Linked DNA regions of Homo sapiens. The protein of the gene in region 1 interacts with the protein of each later gene in a pairwise test. Each region holds a gene or a part of one and is shown in the gene's direction. Other genes may lie near its edges.

Evidence for each region.
Region 2: the proteins of TCHP (region 1) and NME7 interact in binary tests that used the Homo sapiens proteins (3 or more experiments, as listed by UniProt).
Region 3: the proteins of TCHP (region 1) and HMG20A interact in binary tests that used the Homo sapiens proteins (3 or more experiments, as listed by UniProt).
Region 4: the proteins of TCHP (region 1) and NUP54 interact in binary tests that used the Homo sapiens proteins (3 or more experiments, as listed by UniProt).
Region 5: the proteins of TCHP (region 1) and DYDC1 interact in binary tests that used the Homo sapiens proteins (3 or more experiments, as listed by UniProt).
Region 6: the proteins of TCHP (region 1) and ATPAF2 interact in binary tests that used the Homo sapiens proteins (3 or more experiments, as listed by UniProt).
Region 7: the proteins of TCHP (region 1) and EIF4ENIF1 interact in binary tests that used the Homo sapiens proteins (3 or more experiments, as listed by UniProt).

The regions. Positions count from the first base shown.
Region 1 is NC_000012.12:109,913,774-109,917,273, forward strand, and holds part of TCHP (trichoplein keratin filament-binding protein), read left to right. Parts: intron 1-668; coding exon 669-854; intron 855-1,629; coding exon 1,630-1,773; intron 1,774-2,817; coding exon 2,818-2,850; 3' UTR 2,851-3,500. UniProt on the Homo sapiens protein: Tumor suppressor which has the ability to inhibit cell growth and be pro-apoptotic during cell stress. Inhibits cell growth in bladder and prostate cancer cells by a down-regulation of HSPB1 by inhibiting its phosphorylation.
Region 2 is NC_000001.11:169,137,298-169,140,797, reverse strand, and holds part of NME7 (nucleoside diphosphate kinase homolog 7), read left to right. Parts: intron 1-3,500. UniProt on the Homo sapiens protein: Possesses an intrinsic kinase activity. Displays 3'-5' exonuclease activity with a preference for single-stranded DNA. Does not seem to have nucleoside diphosphate kinase activity.
Region 3 is NC_000015.10:77,465,888-77,469,387, forward strand, and holds part of HMG20A (high mobility group protein 20A), read left to right. Parts: intron 1-1,207; coding exon 1,208-1,420; intron 1,421-3,500. UniProt on the Homo sapiens protein: Plays a role in neuronal differentiation as chromatin-associated protein. Acts as inhibitor of HMG20B. Overcomes the repressive effects of the neuronal silencer REST and induces the activation of neuronal-specific genes.
Region 4 is NC_000004.12:76,138,398-76,141,897, reverse strand, and holds part of NUP54 (nucleoporin p54), read left to right. Parts: intron 1-3,500. UniProt on the Homo sapiens protein: Component of the nuclear pore complex, a complex required for the trafficking across the nuclear membrane.
Region 5 is NC_000010.11:80,339,756-80,343,255, reverse strand, and holds part of DYDC1 (DPY30 domain-containing protein 1), read left to right. Parts: intron 1-894; coding exon 895-987; intron 988-3,500. UniProt on the Homo sapiens protein: Functions as part of axonemal radial spoke complexes that play an important part in the motility of sperm and cilia. Plays a crucial role during acrosome biogenesis.
Region 6 is NC_000017.11:18,019,845-18,022,168, reverse strand, and holds part of ATPAF2 (ATP synthase mitochondrial F1 complex assembly factor 2), read left to right. Parts: intron 1-311; coding exon 312-424; intron 425-505; exon of another isoform or gene 506-747; intron 748-930; coding exon 931-1,046; intron 1,047-1,170; coding exon of another isoform or gene 1,171-1,209; exon of another isoform or gene 1,210-1,529; intron 1,530-2,324. UniProt on the Homo sapiens protein: Plays a role in the assembly of the F1 component of the mitochondrial ATP synthase (ATPase).
Region 7 is NC_000022.11:31,462,343-31,465,842, reverse strand, and holds part of EIF4ENIF1 (eukaryotic translation initiation factor 4E transporter), read left to right. Parts: intron 1-1,875; coding exon 1,876-2,162; intron 2,163-2,709; coding exon 2,710-2,911; intron 2,912-3,500. UniProt on the Homo sapiens protein: EIF4E-binding protein that regulates translation and stability of mRNAs in processing bodies (P-bodies). Plays a key role in P-bodies to coordinate the storage of translationally inactive mRNAs in the cytoplasm and prevent their degradation.

The DNA.
Region 1 (3,500 bases):
GGAATCCACAGGAAATTGGGTCGTGATTGGTGATGTTTTGCTCTTGTAAATACCAAGAATTCTCCAGTGCCTTTTGATTTTCCTCATTTAAATTTCCCTCCTGATGGCGGCCACTTTCTGTTCCCCCCAGCCCTGCAGCCTAACTGTTGAGAGTGTCAGGTGGTTTTCTGCTCCTGACTGTGGCCTGGGCTGGAGTTCAGATGTCACACGGCTCTGGGGCCAGGTCTCAAACACAGCAGGTTCAAAAGGTTAGAGGACCACCCCAGCTCCACCTCTGGTCATCTGTGTGGCTTGTGGCTCTCTTGTTTTTGGAACCCGCTGATAGGAAGGAGACTCACCTTGTTGCTCCAAGGTTTCTCTGGCCCCGGGGAGACAGCTCCATCCCCATCTCCTTTGATTTCTTTGGCACTCAGCTGTCTCTCCATAGTACACAGTCTGGATACATTTTGTGTGTCTTGGGTTGCGAGGGAAACATTTCTTGTATACTGGCAAGCGTGGCCGACATCGTGAGAGCAAATCCTGTCATCTGGCTCTGCCTCTGCGTACCTGGGCCTGAGGCCCAAGGATGAGGCTGGGCCTTGCTGTGGCTGCAGCCTGTCCAAGGCTTGTAGAACCAGGATCTGTTAGGGTCAACCTCAAAGCTGCCCTTTTCTTTCTGCTGAGGTTAGGTTCTGACAGGGAGACAACAGCAAATACAAGAGAAGATTGAGCAGAACCGACGGGCACAAGAGGAATCCCTGAAACACAGGGAGCAACTTATTCGAAATCTTGAGGAGGTGAGAGAGTTGGCTCGTCGCGAGAAAGAGGAGAGTGAAAAGCTGAAATCGGCCAGGAAGCAGGAGCTGGAAGCCCAGGTAGGGCTGAGCCCAAGGGCGGGAGGCACCGGGCCTGCCAGGTTCTCTGCATCATCATGGGACAGGGTTCAGAGCCGCTGGACTGCCTGGCAGGGCTTGCGCACGTTTGAGAGCACGGTGCTCCCGTTTCCATCCCAGCTGCAGTCCTCATCCTCTTGACTGTGGCTTCTTTCCCTCCACATCCTCCATGTCGTGTGGGTGAGGCCGGTACTGCTGTCTGTTCTCTTTACTCTGTCTGCTTCTGCAAGCAGTTGGCTTACCGGGGGCCATAGATCTCTCTTCATTTCAGTCCCTGATACATAAGACAGAACAGTCCTCCAAACACCTGGCCACAGGCCGAGCTTTTCACGAGGTACACGCCACGCATATGTATAGCCTCTCCAGCTTTCCATGAGGTACACGCCACGCATACAGCCTCTCCAGCTTTCTACGAGGTACATGCCATGCATACAGCCTCTCCAGCTTTCTACCAGGTACACACAATGCATACAGCCTCTCCAGCTTTCCACGAGGTACACGCCACGCATACAGCCTCTCCAGCTTTCCACGAGGTAAGCGCCACGCATACAGCCTCTCCAGCTTTCTATGAGGTACACACCATGCATACAGCCTTTCAAGTCCCGCATGCTCCCTTCCGTTCCTTGGCACGTGCATTGCTGTTGCTCAGCTGGATTCTCCAGTCTGGGTAGGGCCGCAGGCTTACCTTCCTCATCAGAGGCAGGGCTCTGCCCTGTGGGCCTTGTCTTGGGGTGGTGACTTTGCTCTTGGCACTCAGGTTGCAGAGCGCCGGCTGCAGGCATGGGAAGCAGACCAGCAGGAGGAGGAGGAAGAGGAGGAGGCCCGGCGGGTCGAGCAGCTCTCAGATGCCCTGCTGCAGCAGGAGGCGGAGACTATGGCTGAGCAGGGCTACCGGCCTAAGGTAGGAAGTCTGCCAGGATATAGGCCAACACCGGCAAGACAGACTCTGCCCGGCCCCTGCTCCCCTGGGCCTGCTCATCGCCCCGCGCCGGGGTCTGCTCTCCGGCCGTCCGGGTTATTCCTTGTTTCTCTTCTCTTGTATTTCTCTCTTCCCTGACCAGCAGGGAGCCCTGACACAGGGGCTGTTCCAGTCCTTGGTTGGGCCTCAAACCTTGAAGTGATTTTGCTCTGGCCTTGCCTACTAAGCTGCATGCCTGTCCACCCTCTTTGGTCAATCTAAGAAGAGCTGTGGCCACAGCTGCTGAGAGGGGTCAGAGCAGTAGATCTAGGCCTCAACTGTTGAGACAGTGAAGCCCGATGAACAAGAGACCAGTCCTCCTCCTCACCTCCCCTCCCTCCCTCCTGTGGGTGTCCTCTTCCTCCCCTCCCTCCCGTGTGTGTATCTGTTTCTCTGCCTCTCAGTGTCTTTGTTCCCGGACCTGTCTGCACAGCACCATGGGGAGCACAGAGAAGCAAATGCTGCCTTCCCTGCCCTGAGGAAGCTGATGACTGAAGCACCTCCACTGCTGGCTTGTCCCCTCTGCCCTCCTTTACCTAGGGCCACCCTGGCCACCCGGTGCCTAGAGTGCATTCCCCAGGACACATGCTGCAGAATGAGGGCTGGCTCCCTTGTGGTCAGATGACACTGGGAAACTGAGTGAAACATAATTAGAGCAGGTGCTGCGTTTGCCATAGGCCACTCGCCCTCAAACACTGACTGTCACAGTCACAGGGAACAGCATTTCCTAAACCCACTTGGCCGTGGATCAGTGAGAGTGTCAGGGTCAGGGTTTCACAGATCATATGTGAAAGTGTTTCTTAGGGCTAGTACTCAAAACCAAAAAGATATCAAGTGCCTCATTTATGGCTTAGGGTCAGATTTTTTCAGCTGGAAATGAAACAGCCATTTATATTGTTCTTTTAGCTTGTAGTTAAAACAAGGTTAATTCCTCATGCTGCAGATACTGCTGATCTGATCACTCTTATGTTTTCTTTCTTTTCTCAGCCTTACGGACATCCAAAAATTGCTTGGAACTGACTTCATGGGTACCATAAGTACAGAGAACAAGGGATGCTGAGGCTTCTGATCCCAGCCGCCAGGCAGTTTTACAGGGCTCTGTTAACAGTAAGTGCCCGGGGCACTGTCAGATGGCTCAGCAGTGCCTGCTCAGGTTCATCATTGAAACATCCCAGTGTTTGGCCAGACATTAAGGTGTCGTGAGAGTCCCTTTCATGCCTTTCTTACCCAAGCAAGGGTCTTTGATGGGCACGTGTTTACAGCGCTGCTGCATAGTCTTGTAATATATTAACAGTCACATCAACTGAAGGTCAATACTAAGAGCCACAGGTTGTACCTGTGATGGGGCGTGTGGTTTCCTGTTGTCTCACCTTTAATTGTCAACCTCCAGTGTTGACTCTAGAAATATGAGGAAAGCTTTTCAGTTTTTAAAATTGCCATTTAAATTTAGTCTATTAAAAACAAACCTAGAGGTCTTGGTGCAGTTGATTTCAGAGTTTATTAATTTAGTGGTCCCAAAAGTATTACATCTTTTATATTCTGGAAGAAAAGAACTGTGAACAAATTAGAACCCCGGAACACTCTGACGTCCATGGACGCATTCCAGAAAAGTGGCAAGAGATGAGTCTTTCCTCCTCCAGGAAGCATTTTGGTAGAATTTCCATAGAGCA
Region 2 (3,500 bases), on another chromosome or scaffold:
AATCACCAATCTTGAGAACTGGTCTTTATATCTACAATTTCTTTTATTTGAAATCTTTTTTTTTTTTTTTTAAGGATAGACTGTTCCCTGTCAAAATCTTTTCTTCTCTGGGAGCCACAAAATGAATTTCTAAGAGGAAGTGTCAAGGTCACCTGAGTTTTTCCCCTCTGCTTGCTTGGCATTCATAACTGAGAAAACCCATCCCTGAAGCTTTACTGTAGCTGATTTGTAGCAGAGCCCATCCTGGGCTACTAGTTTCAGAGTGGGAACATGGGGCCATATGTCCTTTTTAAAAAAGTATTATTTGTATAATGTGCTACAACTTTATAAATTCACCCAGAAACTTACATGCCCACTAAATCCAATGAGGTAGGTTTTATTATCTTCAATTTTTAGATTAGGAGACAGGCTCAGAGAGTCTAAATGATTTGCCTAAGAGCACTAGGAAATAGTGGCTAGAATAAAACTCAATTCTTCCAACTCCAAATCTAGTACTCTTTCTGTTCTTTCTACTGATTAATATTTTTATCATTCCATTTTGAAATAATTTCAGACTTATAGAAAAGTTTAAAAAAATACTTTCCACAAGCCCTTTACCTATATTTGCCAAATGTTAATATTTTACCATGTTAATCATCCTTTCTTCTGTCTTTCTGTACATATGAATTTAATTATTTATAATATTTAACAGTATGTTATAGATGTAATTCCCCTTTATCTCTCAATACTTCAGTGTATATTTCCTAAAAACACTGATATTATCTACAGTCACCACAGAAAGTGATTGCGAATCAAGAAGTTAACATTAATACGATACTATTATCAAGGTACAGACCTTCATTTTTTACCCACAAATGTCTTCTGTGGCAAAAGAAGAAAAATAGTTTCTGGTTCAGGATCCAGTCAGGGATCACATATTGCATTTGGTTCTCACGTCTGTTTACTATCTTAGTTTTCAAAGTTTTCTTAGTCTGCCTCTGCTGTTCATGACTTGAATAATTATGTATGCTATCATCTGATAAGCTGGAATTGACAGTTCTGGCTGTCAGCACTTGATGGAGTTATTCAGAGATACTTGGGTTCAGTGACATACAGCAGGATGGGCCATAACATTAGGAGAATATTTGGAAACCAATAATAGTGATATTTATTATGCAATATTTATGCTGGACACTATTTTAAATGTCTTCCATATAATTCCTCATTTAAACTTCACAACAAACCTACATAGTAGGTATTGTTACATTATAGATGTGGAATCTGAGGAACAAAGAAGTTAAGTAACTTGCTCAAGGTTACCTGGCCAGGAGATGGCAGGGCTAGGAGTCAAATTCCAACAGCCAGGCTACATCCCTAGTGTGAGCTCTGAACCAGCACAGGCTGAACCAGAGACATTTAACAAAGTGATATGTCTTTAGGCAAATTATTAGCTCAAAAAACTTGAGTCTCATGAACTGAAAATGGGACTAATAATACCAATGTCATAAAGGTGGTTGTAAGGATTACACACAATAATCTGTTAAAGCATTTGGTATGTAGCAAGAACTTCATTTTTTAAGAGTAAAATTTAAAATATAAATATGGAAAAATTGACCGATAAGCATATCTGAAGAAGATACTGTTATGACTAAGAAGATACTGTTATGACTAAGAAGTTACTGTTATGACTAAGTTCACACTGAGATGAGAAAACTCTCAGAGAATACCTTTTTAATCATTACAGGTAGGGAGGAGAAGGGAACAGAAGCAACAAACATCTGTTCATATTTTGAGAGACTGGGGAGATACCAGTTACAACCAAAACCATCTTCGAGGCAAAAGGGGCTAGATAATGATGAGTCATGAAACACAATTTTATGATGAATTTATGGAAAGTTGTAGCCTTTAGTTATATTAGCAAAGAAGGTAAATATTTTCCATAAAGAGAAAAGTCAGCACCACTCTACTCTGGGCTGAGATATAATTACCTTCCAGCTTTTAAAAGGGAATTTTCTCCTTAGTGGGTGGCAGTCAGAGGAATCAAGAGGTTTTTATCTTTTGAGTTTTTAATTTCATATATACATATCTATATATATTTTAGAGAGTGGGTCTTGCTCTGTCACCCAGGCTGGAGTGCACTGGCATGATCTTAGCTCATTACATCCTCGACTTCCCAGGCTCAAGTGATCCCCTCACCTCAGCCTCCCAAGCGGCTGGGACTACAGGTGTGCACCACCACACCCAGCTAATTTTTTTTGTTGTTAATTTTTTTGTAGAGACAGAGTCTTTCTATGTTGCCCAGGCTAGTTTCGAACTCCTGGGCTCAAGTGATCCTCCTGCCTTGGCCTCCCAAAATGCTGGGATTACAGGTGTGAGCCACTGCACCTGGCCTTGAGGTTTTTAAAAGAGAACTCTGAAGACATTGGGTTTCCAGAATTAGAAAAATGTATAGTCATTTTAATGTGACATTTTCATTTAGTCTTTTTTTTATTTTTATTTATTTATTTTTTTGAGGAGTCTCGCCCTGTCACCCAGGTTGGAGTGCAGTGGCACAATCTCAGCTCACTGCAACCTCCACCCCCGGGGTTCAAGCAATTCTCCTGCCTCAGCCTCCCTAGTAGCTGGGATTACAAGCATGCAGTACCACGCACAGCTAATTTTTGTATTTTTAGTAGAAACGAGGTTTCGCCATGTTGGCCAGGCTGGTCTCAAACTCCTGACCTCAGGTGATCCACCCGCCTAGGCCTCCCAAAGTGCTGGGATTACAGGCATGAGCCACTGCACCCGGCTCATTTAGTCTTAAAACATTTCAAATATGTCAACTAAACCTACGGAGAAGATAAGCATATCTGAAGAAGACACTGTTATGATTAAGTTCAACTTAATTTTTTAATTAGACCATAAATAGATTTGTGGGGGGTACATCTGCAGCCCAAGGGCTTTTGGGGTTCTATAGCTACAACAATAGGCAAGGATGGATTTTTCATCTCCTTTCTATCAAGGTTTGAATGTTTCCTCTGAGTCTTTCCACCCAGAGAACCCTAGACTTCTTTCAGTTACCACTCCTTTCCTCACTATTGACCACTTCTGAGCCCCATATTTTGGGAGCTGAAAAGTAAGTAGTGCCTTGGAGAGGGAAGACAAAAAGGGAAAGGGAGCCCAGCAAAGGTTCATTCAAGGCTCACATGTGCATCCCCTACTGGTAGCTGCCTCTTGCCATCCCCACAGCATAAGCCCTCCCCTCCTCACCCCTGCCCAAGGCTGCAGAGCGCCATCACAGGGCCTCTGTTCCATGCCCGCTGAGTCTGCCAGCTCACACCTTCCATAATCTGCCTCACCCTGCACCTTCCCCAACCCGCCCAACTCTCAACCATCGATCTGTTCATTGCTTATTTTAAAAGCAGCCTTTTCAACCACATTTTTCATTCAGTCATTAGGACAACCATGCTAAAGCAACCCTACAGTAGACGCCCTTGGCTTTAAGCAGAACTGGTGCAGAATAAAAATGTCAGGCCTTTTTT
Region 3 (3,500 bases), on another chromosome or scaffold:
TTAACTGATACGGCTGTATTTGTAAAATTATGAAGTAAAAATATTATGTACCTTACATCTTATTTAAAGGGCCAAGAAGAAAGGCTGTGGTGAAACATCAGTGGTACCTCAGTCCTTTTCATTTCTTTAGTTTTTTTCAGAGGTGATTCAATCTTTTGATTTACCTGGTAACTCAACATATAAAGACCTCTGACTATAAAATGTACATCTAGGCCGGGTGCAGTGGATCACGCCTATAATCCCAGCACTTTGGGAGGCTGAGGCTGGTGGATCACCTGAGGTCAGGAGTTCGAGACCAGCCTGATCAACATGGCAAAACCCCATCTCTACTGAAAATACAAAAATTAGCTGGGTGTGGTGGCACATGCCTGTAATCCCAGCTACTTGGAAGACTAAGGCAGGAGAATCACTTGAACCTGGGAGGCGGAGGTTGCGGTGAGCCGAGATAGCGCCATTGCACTACAGCCTGGGCAAGAAGAGCAAAACTCTACCTCAAAAAAAAAATTAAAATAAAATGTACATCTAAAGGAACAAATTGTCAAGCCAAAGAGCTCGTCTTCATTTCAGATATATTATACTTACTAAAATTTTTCTGAGACTTAGATATTAATTTAGTATCTATCTGCTATGCTATGCTATCTGCTATCTGCTATGGGAAATAAGCTAGTCTTTGAAAGTTATCAATGAGCAACTCCCATTGTGAGTTATTTTTAATTTCTGCTACAACTTGTTTCTTCTTTTGCCTGGTGCACGTGACACCATCTTACTCTAATCTGACAATGTCTGCCTCCCTGCCACAATGCTGCATGTGCTGCTGTATTTCCCATTTGGATACTCTCCTGTCAGGAATCAGGACCTGACAGTTGTCTGTGGGACAGTCATATGCATATGAAGGTCAAAGCTGAGTGATCATGGCACCTCTTATTCTCATACATTGAGATTAGCACAAAAATAGCCCTTTAGTGTAACATTTTGTAGTGTGATACATAAAAGAGGTTGCAAGTGAAGCATCTGGAGTTCCTCAAAAATTGCATTGCTGTCATTTGTATATTACCTACAACAGATGTGGAGAGCTTTGAATATCCAGGGCCAAATTGCAACTCTTAATCCTGTTTTGTTTGTTGTTGTTTGTTTTTGTTGTTGTTGGGTTATTTTGGGAGATGGTTGTTGTTTGGTTTTTGGTTTTTTATTTTGTTTTGTTTTGTAGCAACGAAGTAAACGAGGAGGTTGGTCCAAAGGAAGAAAGAGGAAGAAACCTCTTCGAGACAGCAATGCACCCAAATCCCCCCTTACAGGATATGTTCGGTTCATGAATGAGCGTCGAGAACAACTTCGAGCAAAGAGACCAGAAGTCCCATTTCCAGAAATCACAAGGATGTTAGGCAATGAATGGAGTAAACTGCCTCCTGAGGAAAAACAGGTAATTGTTCCTATTCCTGACTCTTTGTTTGGTTTTGATTATATCTCAGAAATAACTTATATAAGAAAAGCAAAGAGGATGGACAGTTGATTCTGCAGTTTTGTCACAGTGCCTAGGAGACCAGAATAGCAGGGTCCATCATAGCAATTTTCTCTAGCCTAGTGATTTTTAAACTATTTGCTAGAGGGGTGTGAGCAGGGAAGGAGTCTAGGACTCCCCTCAACCAAAGCAACACCACTTTTTATACGCTGAGTTCACATAAGATTGTTTTAAGTGGTTCAGTATTAAGAAATCTGTCAATAAAATGTATTCCACTGAGTTAAATGAAAAGTCGTGAATTAAATGAGAAAAAGTCACTTGACACAATTCTGCAGTTCACATAAGATTTTTAAGAAAAAATGTTACTGCTTTAATACTTTTTTTAACTAGAGTTCTGGCAAATTAACCTACTATTGAAAATAAAGCAAGAACAACTTGAATTCTTTCTCCTCTAAGACAGAAACTAACCTGATGGGCAAACTGAAATGAATCCGTTCATTAGAGAGATTTGAAAGGAATTAAGGACAAGATAGCCATGAGCTGGTTGAAGTACCACTAAAGCTGAGCAGTGGTCATGGTTGTGGGAGCTGCTTTGGGTTAAAAGTTCCCAGCATTCCCAGCATCTGAAAGATATCTGTATTTCTTTTACGTCTTAAACTCTTTTATGACTTACACTTTTTAAAAAGGATTCCAGACACACTAAAACCAAATGGAGAAATACTCTCCTGGGAATTAATTGAATTCAGAAATTTTCAAAGAGATCAGATTCAGTTGCAACTTTTGAAGCTCTGTGTTTGTGGTAGCAAGCTAGTAGAAAGCAGTGAATATCATCCATTGTTTTGGCGCTACTGTATAAAAGGATAGTGGGCTGTACATACTATGCTATTCTTTTCTTTTTTTTCTTTATTTTAAAATTAATATGTGCTCATTATTCTCTTTTCAGAGAATACAGAAATGTATAAACAAAAATGTAAAAATAACAGTGCTTATTTCTTGGGATAACCACTATTACGTAGGACAAAGGTTTTGTGTTTGTTTTTGTTTTTTTAACTTTTTTTGGAAATAATTTCAAATACACAAAAAGTTACAAACATAAAAATAATACAAAGAACATCCCAACACTCTTTACCCAGATTCACCTATTGTTAACACATTTTATTCCATTTCTCCATTTGCATATGCACTTATATGCTCAGTCTTTCTTATACTTTTGCATGCTCAGTCTTTCTCTCTCTCTCTCTCTCTCTCTGTCACACACACACACACACACACACACACACTTGCATGTGTACACCCAGACACACACAAAATTTTGTTTTAATCATGTGAGGATAAATTATATACATTGTAGCCCTTTACCCCCAGGATATTTCAGTGTGTATGTCAAAGAATATTTTCTTATATAACCATAGTGTAGTCATCAATTTCATAATTTTTCATTAACAGTGCTTTAATCTGTCATCTATATGTTGACTGAATGTCATTTCTTTATAACATTTTTCCCTTCCAAAACAGGTTCCAGTCTAGGGTCAGGTTTTGTGTTTAGTAGTCAAGTTTCTTTAGCTTAAACTGGGATATTTCCATAATCTTTCTTTTTCTTTTATAACATTGATATTTTTTTAAAATACAGTTCCCTTCTGCTTCCCCCGCTGCTTTTACCTTTAACAGAACATTGCTCATTGTGTATTTTTCAGATGTTTCCTTGTGATTAGATTGAGGTTGCGCATTCTTGGTGGGATTACTTGCATAGGTGGTGGTGTGTTCTCAATATGTCACATATGCAGGCACACAATGTCCTTTTGTTTCTCACTAGTAATGTTAATTTTGCTTACCTGGTACATTATTTAAATTCTCCTTTGTCATTAATAAGTAATCTATGGGGAGACGATTTAAGAACATACAAACAGCCTGTTTTACATCAACATTTTCCCCTAGATTTAGCATCCATTGATTATTTTTGCCTGATTTAATCTTTATCATTATGGTTACAACGTGATGATTTTTCCAACTCCAGCACTCCCTTTACATTTACCAGGTAGCC
Region 4 (3,500 bases), on another chromosome or scaffold:
CAGTTTTTTTAATGCATAAATGACCTCAGGGTCAGTAGTGAGAGTTGGAGAGATAGATATGAATTGGATTATTAGCGTGCCTTATATGTTTTACTAAGGAGCTGTCCTTTAAGCAATTCTAAACTGTTGTAGGATTAAGTAGACAGGAAAATAATCAGATTTTTAGAAGTATCTCTTAGAGAAATACAAAGATAGATTATAGGTGGGTTGGAATGGAGGCAGAGATCTGGTGAAGCTGTTGCCAAAATCTGAGCAAGATATAGTGAAGACCTGAATTAAGGCAGTGACAGTTAAGAATGGAGAGAAAAAACAGGATGTGAATTTGAGAGAGATTTAACTTGTAGAATCAATAAAAGCGAATGACTGGATAAAGGTATCTTGGGCTTCTGGGTGGCGTAACTGAAGGATCCCTTGCTCTTCACTAAGATCCAGAATACTAAAGCAAGAGCAGATGTTTGTGGGTAGATAATGAGTTTGAGGTGTCCCTTGGGTAGTTGTATATATTTATGAAAGCCATCAGAACGTAAGTAGTATTTAAAGTGGTAGATATGGATGATGTAATTTAGGAGACCTGATTCCAGAGTAAGAGGAGAGTACTAGAACAAAACTCTTAGAAACACTAACACTTAAATGCTGCCATCTCCTATCCCCAAGCCAAGTAGGATTTTGACCATAAATTAGCGAGCAGCATTGTTAGGACCACTGCTTGTCCTATCTCAGTATAGAGATGCCCGTCCATGTATTCCTCATACTTATTAGCTCCCTTTTACTAATCACAGCTATTCCTATCTCAGTTGGCAATACCTGTGAATCAAGGGGAAAAGTCACATTTGACTTTGTGACAACCGCCAGAAGTCCTTTCCAAGCCAAAGCATGGATTATCGAGGATCCTTCAGAAGACTGTTGGATCTTTCGACAACTGATACTTTCTGCTCTGTTAGCTCTTTCTGTCTTCACTACTCTAACTAGCTTAGATTCCATGGCCTTCCATTTCTATATCTCTTGCCAATATGCTAAACTTCCTTGTTTTTGTGTCACATTTGCCTGAAAAAACCCCAAGCCTTTGTAAGCCCAACTGTCTGTGTAGATATTGCTTGAGAAAGATCACACATTATGGAAGAGGGGATAATACCTCTCTAAATTCTTGATCACCAACCTCAGGTCTCAATGTTGCCTGGTAATCCTGTGAAATTTCTACTTTCAACTTATTCTCCTGCTTTCTATAGCAGTAATTTTAAACCTTTATTCTCTTCAAATCTCAAATTTATCTGTTCTTACTTTTAGCAGATGGCCTTGACTGCTACTTCCAAGACAAAAAAGGGCTGAGCGCAGTGGCTCACATCTGTAATCCCAGCACTTTGGGAGGCTGAGGTGGGCGGATCACCTGAGGTCAGAGACCAGCCTGGCCAACATGGTGAAACCCATCTCCACTAAAAATACAAAAATTAGATGGGCGTGGTAGTGCACACCTGTAGTCCCAGTTACTCGGGAGGCTGAGACATGAGAATTGCTTGAACCCCATAGGCAGAGGTTGCAGTGAGCTGAGATCGCACCACTGGACTCCAGCCTGGGTGACAGAGCAAGACTCTGTCTCAAAAAAAAAAAAAAAAAACCAAAGAGAAAATAAAATCCCTTATTGCAATTCCTTCAACTTCCCTCCACCAAATCTATTTTTTTTCTCCCTCTATCCACCTTTTCCTCTTTTTACCTGACTCAGGATCTTATAACCTCCTGCCTTTTCAGGGCGCATGTGCTGTTGATTATTCTAGCTGTACTCCGTTCCCCAGTCTTCACCTTCTCATCCACATTTAAGTAACTCAAAGTTTATTTTTTCTTGAAACAGTAATAACAACAACAACAAAACTACTTTAATCCCACATTTCACTTCAGCTACCACTCTCCTCCCCTTTACAAACTATTCGCCAATCTGGTTTCTGTTTTCTTTATTTTATCAAATAAGTTAAGGTCATTAATCATCTCAGTAAATCCAGTGAACACTTACTGTTCTTTATGAAAAATGCTAACAAAGAAAAAAAGAAGTGATGTGAACCCTACCAGCTGGAGTCATCAAAAGTCAGAACTTGTTATTGTCCATCTCCTTTTTCCTTTTTTTAAATCACTGATGTATTTGAGAGCAAATCCCAAGCGTGTCATTTCATGCTTACTTTACTATACTTCTCTCTTTAAAAATGTGTACCTCATTCCAACCCACAATAATTCCTTGGTACTATCTAATACCCCATCTATAACCAGAGTTCCCTATTTGTCTCAAAAGCGTTTTCTTATTTGGTTTGTTTGAATCATGATCCAAACAAGGACCACACATTCATTTTCTTGTCATGTCCCTTAAGTTCTTTTTAGTGTAGAGAATTCCCCATTCTGTTTTTTCCCTCATGAATTTTCCAGTTGTCTTGTTAAATGCCCCCCATTCTGTATTTTTCTTCTGCTTCCTTGTAATATTATTTAACTTTATCTCTCATAATTGTGGTAAATAAAGTTTGCTTTAGGGACTTGACGTTTGCTTTTTTGGTAAGAACATTTTGCAAGTGGTGCTGTGTGCTTCATATCACGTCACGTTGAGAGGCTATCTCACTTTTGGTGATGCTAAGATTGATCAGTAGGTTCAGATGGTGACAGCGTATCTTTATCTTACTACTTTAACCTAATGGTTTCATTCCTTGATGATCATTGCCTCAATCAGTTATCTTATTAGGAGTTGCAAAATGGTGATTTTCTAATTTCCTCCCTATCACACTGAAATTTCTTCTGTAAAAGGAACTTTTTCTTCATCCTCCAAGACTGCTTGATCACCCTGATGTACAGTTTGTATAGTAAAGGCAAGATAATTTTTTTTCTTTTTAATGGACAATTTTTGTAAAAAGGAGTTGGCGGTCTCATTATTTCTAATGGTATCCAAGGAGTTAGGATTTAAAAAAAATTTGATCTTTACTTTATAAAATTACCATTTTGAATGCATGGGCTTTAATAAATATGTTTCAGTTGTTGCATTTGGCCAGTGGGAGACCTTAACTTCTGTGACACTCCAGTCTAGTTTTTTCCTACCTCATTGTTAGTCCTCCTTATTGCTTTTGTCCACTCATCTTCCTCTCTCTGTCTCTACAGAGATGTTACACATACTGTTGGCCTTTACCTCTACCCCATGGCTTAGCTGACTCCTTCCTTTAGGCCCTAACTGAAGTGCTAATGGAACTGTCTTCTCTTGACCCCTCTCTCAGGCTTGATCAGCTCCCTTATTTAGTACTCCCAGAACCTCTGTACTTCTCTGAAGGACTTATCACAATTGTTAATATTTGTTTGATGTGTTCAGTTTGTTTAATGCACCTTGTCTACCTTGTTTACCACTGTATCTTTAGTATTTGGCTCTGAGCACTTAGTAGGTACTCAGTAAATATTTGTTGTATGAATTAATGGTGAATGAATGAATGAATGTGTTTATAAAAAACCAAGAGAGACTGTGTTGTCAGGAAATTTAAGGGAGA
Region 5 (3,500 bases), on another chromosome or scaffold:
AAAGCTTTAAGGATGCTGAAATTTACATTTCATACCGTTTTCCTATGTCATGAAATATTATTTCTTTTAAATTTTTTCTATTTAAAAATGTAAAAGCCATTCTTTCTTTGTAAGCTATAAAAAACAGGAGGTGGGTTGGCTTTGGCCCACAGGCTTTATTGCTGAACCCTATTCTAGTGTGACAGATATGCTGAGTTGGGAGCAAATATATTGTTGGTTAGTAATGATTTCAGATGATATTCTTTTTTCTTCTTTTCTTTTTTTTTTTTTTTTTTGAGAGGGAGTCTTACTCTGTTGCCTAGGCTGGAATGCAATGGCACAATCTCGGCTCACTGCAACCTCCACCTCCCAGGTTCAAGCGATTCTCCTGCCTCAGCCTCCCGAGTAGCTGAGATTACAGGCATGTGCCACCCTGCCCAGCTAATTTTTGTATTTTTAGTAGAGACAGGGTTTCACCATGTTGGCCAGTCTGGTCTCAAACTCCTGACCTCAGATGATCTGCCTACCTTGGCTTCTCAAAGTGCTGGGATTACAGGCATGAGCCATCAGATGATATTCTGAAGAGTTTCTCACCCACTCTTCCACAACCAGTGTGTGGCTATTTGAAGACCCATCTATGCTTAAAGAAATTTATCTGGAAAATTGTTGCAATCTCATTTGTTACTTTAAGAAGAAAAGGGAAAATAATTTTGTACAAATTGTGCTTTCTATAATTTGCAATTAAGGAAGATTAAAATCTTTTTTAAAAATTTTATGCTTCAGGAAGCATTTGTAGAAACTAAAGTATTAGTTGGATGTGACCATGTATTGTAAGTTTCTGAAATGAAGGTGGGTATAAACTTAATTATCTTGCAATTAATCTAACTGTAATATGACATATTTCTGAATATTCAGCAACAGCTGGCATTGCAGCTAGAGTTGGAAATGCAAGAAAAGGAGAGGCAGAGAATACAAGAACTACAGAGAGCTCAAGAACAATTAGGCAAGGTAATTTGAAGTTTTATAAATGTCAGTTTTATTTAAAACTCTCTAGAATCTTCAAACTGTTTATTTCAGCTGTTAGCAGAAGGACCATGGGATTTGTAGTCTGAAGACATGCCACATACTAGCTGTGTAAGCTAAACAAGTCTCATAACCTTTTTCAGTCTCAGTTTACCTGTTTCAAAACTAGAGCTAGCAGTATAATACTATTAGCAATGTCTCACTGGTTCCTTTTTTTTTTTTTTTTTTTGAGACGGAGTCTCATTCTTGTTGCCCAGGCTGAAGTGCAATGGCACAATCTCGGTTCACTGCAACCTCGGCCTCCCAGGTTCAAGTGATTCTCCTGCCTCAGCCTCCCGAGTAGCTGGAATTACAGGCACGCACCACCACGCCCGGCTGATTTTGTATTTTTGGTAGAGACAGGGTTTCTCCATGTTGGTCAGGTTGGTCTCGAACTCCTGACCTCAGGTGATCCACCCACCTTGGCCTCCCAAAGTGCTGGGATTACAGGCATGAGCCAGCGCCCCTGGCCGTCTCACTGGATTCTTATACAATCAAATACAATCATGTTTGTGAAACTTCTCTGTGAGCAGTAGGGTTCTCTAATAGTGATACCCTCAACATTTTAGTCAGGAGTTAGCTGTTCCTAGTTACAGTAGCTGATGTTGAATATTGAGGGTATTCCAATCTCGGAGGCAGTAGTATATGTCTTTATGTTAATGTATTAACAACAAGAATTTACATTTTAAAATATGTTCATACATGGACTTTCATTAAAATAAACTATGCAGTAACTTTTTTCTTTCTTTCTTTTTTTTTTTTTTTTTTTTTTGAGACAGAGTCTCACTCTGTCACCCAGGCTGGAGTGCAGTGGCGTGATCTCGGCTCACTGCAACCTCCACCTCCCGGGTTCAAGCAATTCTCGAGCCTCAGCCTCCCGAGTAGCTGGGATTACAGGCACGCACAACCATGCTTGGCTAATTTTTTGTATTTTTAGTAGAGATGGGGTTTTGCCATGTTGTCCAAGCTGACATGATACAATCATGTCAGGTCTCTAGTTTGACCCATATTTCCTGCATCCAAAAGCTATGAGTCATATAGACCAATATTCTAGATGACTGAGTTTATAGCTACTATCTCTTAATCAAATGTTTCTCCCCCTTTTTATTCCATAATTAAAGCTGAAAAAAGAAGCAGGTTTTATAGACAATGTTCATTATGTTTATTGATGCTTAGATGAGAGAATCATTTATTAAAGCAATATTTAAAAAGTGTGAATGGTGAATTAAATCAAAAAGTGAGATTTTTTTTAAAAGGATAAAAGCCCTATACATAGTTTTAAAAAATACAGATGCTGATGCGGTCTTAGTCTGAGTGTAGTGTGAGCACAGGGATATGCCTGTATGCACACATACACAAGCAGCCCCTTTCTCTTTAAGATTCACAAAGAAATAATGTTTAAGGTGATGGATATCTCAAATATCCTGATTTGATCATTACATATTGTATGCTTGTATCAAAATATCACATGTACATCGTAAATATGTACAGCTATTTATATCAGTAAAAATTAAAAATTAAAGAAATTTTGAAAAAGATTCACGGATCTAAACTGAAAGAGAAAATACAGGAACATATCAAGAAGGCAGTGATCAAAATAAAGGAATTTAAAGTATTTTTAATCAAAGTGACCTGATAGCTACATTAAAGTGCTTCAAAGTCCATAGGAAGGATTGGTCTCTATTTTATGGCTCCAGAGAGCCACACTCATGTTATTTTACTATCTCCAGACATCATCAGCTTGTGTGACCACTGCCAGAATAACTTTAGTAATTCCTATTTCTATAGGCTTATCATCCCTCACCATAGCATAGGTAGTCCCCTGCAAAGTACCACTCCCTCGCCCATTGCTCAGAGATGAGTCCACTCATGTGCTTTCCCTTGGCCTTCTTATGGCTGCAGACTCGCAATGTAAACTATCATGTGCAAAGGGAAGTTTGCTAGAAGGATTCTGGGTTGAAGGAAGGGTTTAACACATAAACTGTGAAGGACTCTGGTATCACTGGGCCTTTCAGACTTTGGGAGCAAGAGAATCAGATGCTACCAGGGCTCTCCCCTCTGCTGCTCCCTGGTTATTAGTTTCGCTCTTTCACTATGGGCTGCTTTGCTGCACATGGGTAGGGAACATGGGCCTTAACGGCTTCTGAGGCTTAGAATGTTGTGGCTTCTACCATCTAAGAGGAATGGATGCCTTGTTTTAGTTTCAGTTAAGAAAAGAATCTTGGAGAAGGATTCTGACTGGCTTAGTTTGTGTCAAATATCCATCTCTGTGGCAGGGGAGCATAGTCCTATAAGAATATGGATGTTCCCCATATAGCCTTGTGGATGCTGGATAAGAAGTTACCAGGAAAATGGAGTGGTCTTGGGAAAACAGTGCTGTTTATGTCCCTATCATTAGGGTGACCATATGTATGATCAAGAAATCACTGGTCTTCTAGCAGCCAAAACGAATCAGCTCA
Region 6 (2,324 bases), on another chromosome or scaffold:
TTTTGATGGAGATTCCAGGTGAATGAATGAGCATTTCAGGCAGCTGCGTATAACCGAGCCCTAGCTCACATGACTCAGGAACCATCCCTTCATTCAGCACAGTTTCTTGGTCCTCCAAGTTTGCTTTTGAGGGACAGAAAATCAGGTCGGGAGGCCACTGACCATGGTGGCAGTTGCTCCTGTAGTCAAGACTAGCTCCTTGGCCAATGCACACACATGCTCTGAAGCTTAGGCCTTTGTTTCTAGTCAAAAGGTGGGCTGCTCTTGGGCTACAGCATGACAGAGACATGCCGAAGCCCTTTTCCTTTCAGATACGGCGTGGAGATCAGCTCCTCCACCAGCATAATGGGACCCAGCATCCCTGCCAAAACTCGGGAGGTGCTCGTCAGCCACCTGGCATCTTACAACACATGGGCTTTACAAGGCATGTATGGAGTTTCTTGTGGGCTTGGCAGGTGGCTGTGAAGGCCATCAGTGTCTGAAGCCTGTACTTGCCCCTCCCCAGGTCCTGTGAGTGGAGAGGCACAGAGTGTTCTGGGCTAGCTGAGTGTGGAGGCTGGGTGGCTCTGATGCTAGCCAATCACTCTACGCTCTAGGCTCACACCTTTCCACCTTCGACTTCGCCAGCAGAAGTCTTGAGTTCAATCTCATTGCCCTGGCTTGGGTCACATGTCCATCCATGAACCAATCACTAGACTGGGTGCGGAAAGCTCTGATTTGCCAAGTTCGGGTCATGTGTCTCACTAGGTAAGAGCAGAGGAGGATCACCCCCAGGGAAGACCAGAGTGCTCTTTCAGAAGAGTGGGACAATCGCTGGATGGCTCTTTGCACCACTCACTCCTGTTCTCTGCTAGGGCTGCTGGGACTCACAAGGGGTAGGTTGTGGCAGCTGCCCTGTTTTGGGTTCTGACTTGGCTTGTGTCCCTGCAGGGATTGAGTTTGTAGCTGCCCAGCTCAAGTCCATGGTGCTAACCTTGGGCCTGATTGACCTGCGCCTGACAGTGGAGCAGGCCGTGCTGCTGTCACGCCTGGAGGAGGAGTACCAGGTGAGGAGCAGCACCTCAGGTCCCGCCTCCCCCTTCCTAGTTCAGACTCACTTTGGGGGAGCAGCTAACCCATCTGAAATATAGTTATGCATACTTGGCTTTTATTACTTTTATGTACACGCAGAAATCAAAATCAAGGACCAGCAGAAGTATTGTCAAGTAGGCCTGGCATGGTGGTTCACACCTGTAATCCCAGCACTTTGGGTGGCTGAGGAGGATGGATCATTTGAGGTCAGGAGTTTGAGACCAGCCTGGGCAACATGGCAAAACCCTCTCTCTACAAAAATACAAAAATTAGCACCTGTAGTCTCAGCTACTTGGGAAGCTGACGTGGGAGGATTGCTTGAACCTGGGAGGTGGAGGTTGTAGTGAGCCAGGATTGTGCCACTGCATTCTAGCCTGGGTGACAGAGTGAGACCCTGTCTCAAAAAAAAAAAAAAAAAAGGTAAGATAATAACAATAAAAAAATAACAGTAAGTGCTACCGCTGTGTTCCTGCATTGTATCCATCTCACCTCCTCTCAGCAGCCTGGGCAGGTAGGAGCTGTGGTTATCTCTGTTTTACACAGAAGGAAATGGAGGTGCAAGGTTGCACCTCTGGAAAATGTGCCAGCTGGGGTTTGAAGCCAGGTCTGGTGATTTTAGGGCCAAGGCCGTCAGGCCTCACTCTGCACAAGGAGGTTCACGGGTGGATAAAGACCATCTGGGCTTGATAAAGCCTGCAGAACAGGCCCTGCCAAGATGACTGAGAACCCGTTTGTGCTCCTTCATCAGCTGAGCCTTCATACCCTGACATTTTATCTGGCTGGCAGAGGAGCATAGGGGTAGCTGCTGTTTGTATACAAGTTTTGATTTAGTGGGCTCAGAATTAAGGTTTTGCCACAGTATGGTTTGCATTTTTTAACTCTGAAAATTATAGCCATCTTTGCAGTCTTTTTATTGTTATTCCACCAACCTCAGAAGGTTAATTGCTATTATGAATTGGTCCCTAATATGGTAAAAACAAACAAACAAAAAAACACAAAACTTTTTGTGATGTATTTCCCTAGTTCTTGTAGTCTTCTGCTCAGAAAAATGCCAGGGAAAAAACTATTTTTGTATAACAAAGGAGGCCCGCTACTATTCTCTGGATGTCAGAACTGATTACATAGGAAGGGGGTGACTTGTAGGGCTGGTGGGAAGCCAGTCTGGGCTCTGCTTCTGACTATGGGACCCAAGCCAGGCCATCATTCTCTGAACTTTGGTTTCGATCCTCTACAAACAGAGGAATAACCTGAAT
Region 7 (3,500 bases), on another chromosome or scaffold:
TTATTTTCATTGCTTAATAGTATTCCATTGTATGGATTTAGCAGTTGATCCGTTTATCTGTTGATGTACATTTGGGTTGTTTCCAGTTTTTGACTGTTAAATAACCAAAGCTGCAATGAACATTCATGTACAAGTCTCTGGACATAAGCTTTCTTTTCTCTTGGGTAAAAACCTAGGATTAAAATGGCTGGGTTGTATAGCAGATGTATGTTTAACCTTCTGGGAAATTGCCAAACTGTTTTCCAAAGTAGTTGTACCATTTTACGTTTCCACCAGTGGTGTATGAGAGTTGCACTTGCTCCAACATCCTCATCTGCACTTGGAATGGTCATTTAAATTTTAGCCATTGTAATAGGCGTGTAGTAGTATCACATGGTTTAATTTGCATTTCCCTAATGACTAATTATGTTGAGTATCTTTTCATATGCTTATTTGCCTTCCACATAACCTCTTTGGTGAAGTGTCTGTTCAAACCATTTGTCTATTTTTCAATTGTGTTGGTTTTTTTTTTTTTTTTTTGAGACAGAGTCTGGCTCTTGGTGCCCAGGCTACAGTGCAGTGGTGCAGTCTCAGCTCACTGCAACCTCCACTTCCCAGGTTTAAGCGATTCTCCTGCCTCAGCCTCCCAAGTAGCTGGGATTACAGGTGCCTACCACCACGCCTGGCTAATTTTGTATTTTTAGTAGAGACGAGGTTTCACCATGTTGGTCAGGCTAGTCTCGAACTCCTAACCTCAGGTGATCCACCTACCTCAGCCTCCCAAAGTGCTGGGATTACAGGCGTGAGCCACTGGGTTGGTTTATTAAGAGATTTTATGTGTTCTGAATTTAAGTCCTTTATCAGAAAAATGCTTTGAAATATTTTGTCTCAGTCTGTGGCTTGTCTTTGCATTCTCTAAACAGTGTCTTTCAAAGAGTAGAAGTTTTAAATTTTGATCAAGCCCAGTCTATCAGTGTTTTTTAAATGGATCATGCTTTTGGTGTCATGCCTAAGAAAACTTTGCCTAACCCAGTGCCACAAGGATTTCCTCCTATATTTTGTTCTAGAAATTTTTAGTTTTAGGTTTTACATTTAGATCTGTGATCCATTTTGAATTAATTTTTGTATATATCTGTTTATATATATATATATATATATATATATTTTTTTTTTTTTTTTTTTTTTTTTGAGACTGAATCTTAGTCTTTTGCCCAGGCTACAGTGTAGCGGGGTGACTTCTGCTACTGCAACCTCTGCCTCCAGGTTCAAGCGATTCTCCTGCCTCAGCCTCCCAAGTAACTGGGATTACAGGCACCTGCCACAATGCCTGGCTAATTTTTGTAGTTTTAGTAGAGACGGGGTTTCACCATCTTGGCCAGGCTGGTCTTGAACTCCTAACCTCGTGATCCACCTGCCTTGACGTCCCAAAGTACTGGATTATAGGCGTGAGCCACCATGCCCGGCCCCAAATATAGATTTAAGTTCATTTCTTTGTCTGTGGATATCTAACCGTTCAACACCATTTTGTTGAAGAGACACTTTAACTTTTTAAGCAGTTATTTTTTCAAATACGCCTGCTGTAGTTTATTAGTTGACAAAACATTTGCTAATAATTCTTAGATAAGGATTTGGTCAAAATAAAGGCACTGCAAAGACTAATCATGGAAAATTATTTATCGTGACGTACTTCTATTGCTGCAAAGAGGAAGGCCAATGTCTCAGCCTTATTTAAATACATAATGTACATGTTACCCTGAATCTGCTGATAAGCCCAATTTTAGTGGTGACTCTCTTCCAACCATCCCCTTCCTCCCATCAGTCATGGACATACTATCTAAAAAAGAAGAAAACACCCTTGTTGGTTTGTTTAACTTTGTCTTTCCCACGTCCTTCCAGATCCACGAGAGCGTGTGAAAGAAGATGACTTAGATGTTGTTCTCAGCCCTCAGAGACGGAGCTTTGGAGGGGGCTGCCACGTGACAGCCGCTGTTAGCTCCCGGCGCTCAGGAAGTCCATTAGAGAAAGATAGTGATGGGCTTCGTCTGCTTGGTGGACGTAGGATTGGCAGTGGGAGGATAATCTCTGCCCGGACCTTTGAGAAGGATCACCGTCTTAGCGATAAGGACCTGCGGGACTTGAGAGACAGAGACCGAGAGAGGGACTTCAAGGACAAGCGTTTCAGGGTTTGTCTTTTTTTTTTTTTTTTTTTTTTAAATTGAGACGGAGTTTCGCTCTTGTTGCCCAGGCTGGAGTGCAATGGCACGATCTTGACTCACTGCTGCCTCAGCCCAGTATCTGGGATTATAGGCACGCACCACCATACCCGGCTAACTTTTTATATTTTTAGTAGAGACGGGGTTTCTCCATGTTAGTCAGGCTGGTCTCTCAAGCTCCCAACCTTAGGTGATCGGCCTGCCTCGGCCTCCCAAAGTGCTGGGATTACAGGCGTGAGCCACCACACCCGACCTGGGTTTGTCTTCTAGATTCTTTGGTAGTTCATGTGCTTGGGGACTTGATATTCACTTTTTTTATACCAGGTTACTTTGAGAACAGGCATGAACACAGCCTGCTCTTAAACCAGTCAGGGAGGAAGGGGTGGGGGTGGTGATGGGCCTCAGGTATACAGCATCATATCTTCCTTTCACTATTGAACATTACAACGAAGACCTTGACTGAAGTAGAAATGGCTTGACTAGAAATTTTTTAATCTTGCTTTATGTACTTTTCCAGAGAGAGTTTGGAGATAGTAAGCGTGTCTTTGGTGAGCGTAGAAGAAATGATTCTTACACAGAAGAAGAACCAGAGTGGTTCTCTGCTGGACCCACAAGTCAGTCTGAAACCATCGAACTGACTGGCTTTGATGATAAGATACTAGAAGAAGATCACAAAGGGAGAAAAAGAACAAGGCGACGGACAGCCTCTGTGAAGGAAGGTCAGTTCAAACTTTGGGAGGGAAGTTCGCTGTTTTAAAATGAGATGTAGGCTGGGCGTGGTGGCTCACACCTGTAATCCCAACACTTTGGGAGGCCGAGGTGGGCGGATCACCTGAGGTCAGGAGTTTGAGACCAGCCTGGCCAACATGGTGAAACCCCGTCTCCACAAAAATTCAAAAATTAGTGGGGTGTGGTGGCTGGTGCCTGTAGTCCCAGCTACTCGGGAGGCTGAGGCACAAGAATTGCTTGAACCTGGGAGGCAGAGGTTGCAGTGAGCTATCACACCACTGCACTCCAGCCTGGGTGACAGAGCAAGACTGTCTCAAAAATAAAATAGAGATGTGATTATCACTGGCTAATTGTACACTTAGGAATGGGCACCAGATGTATAGGAAATGGCAAGTTTTTCATGATGCATCCTGATTTTGAAATCTTTTTTTTTTTTTGAGACGGAGTCTCGCTCAGTTGCCCGGGCTGGAGTGCAGTGGCACCATCTCAGCTCACTGCAGCCTCCATTTCCTTGGTTCAAGCGATTCTTCCCTGCCTCAGCCTCCCGAGTAGCTGGGATTACAGGTGCCTGCCATGACG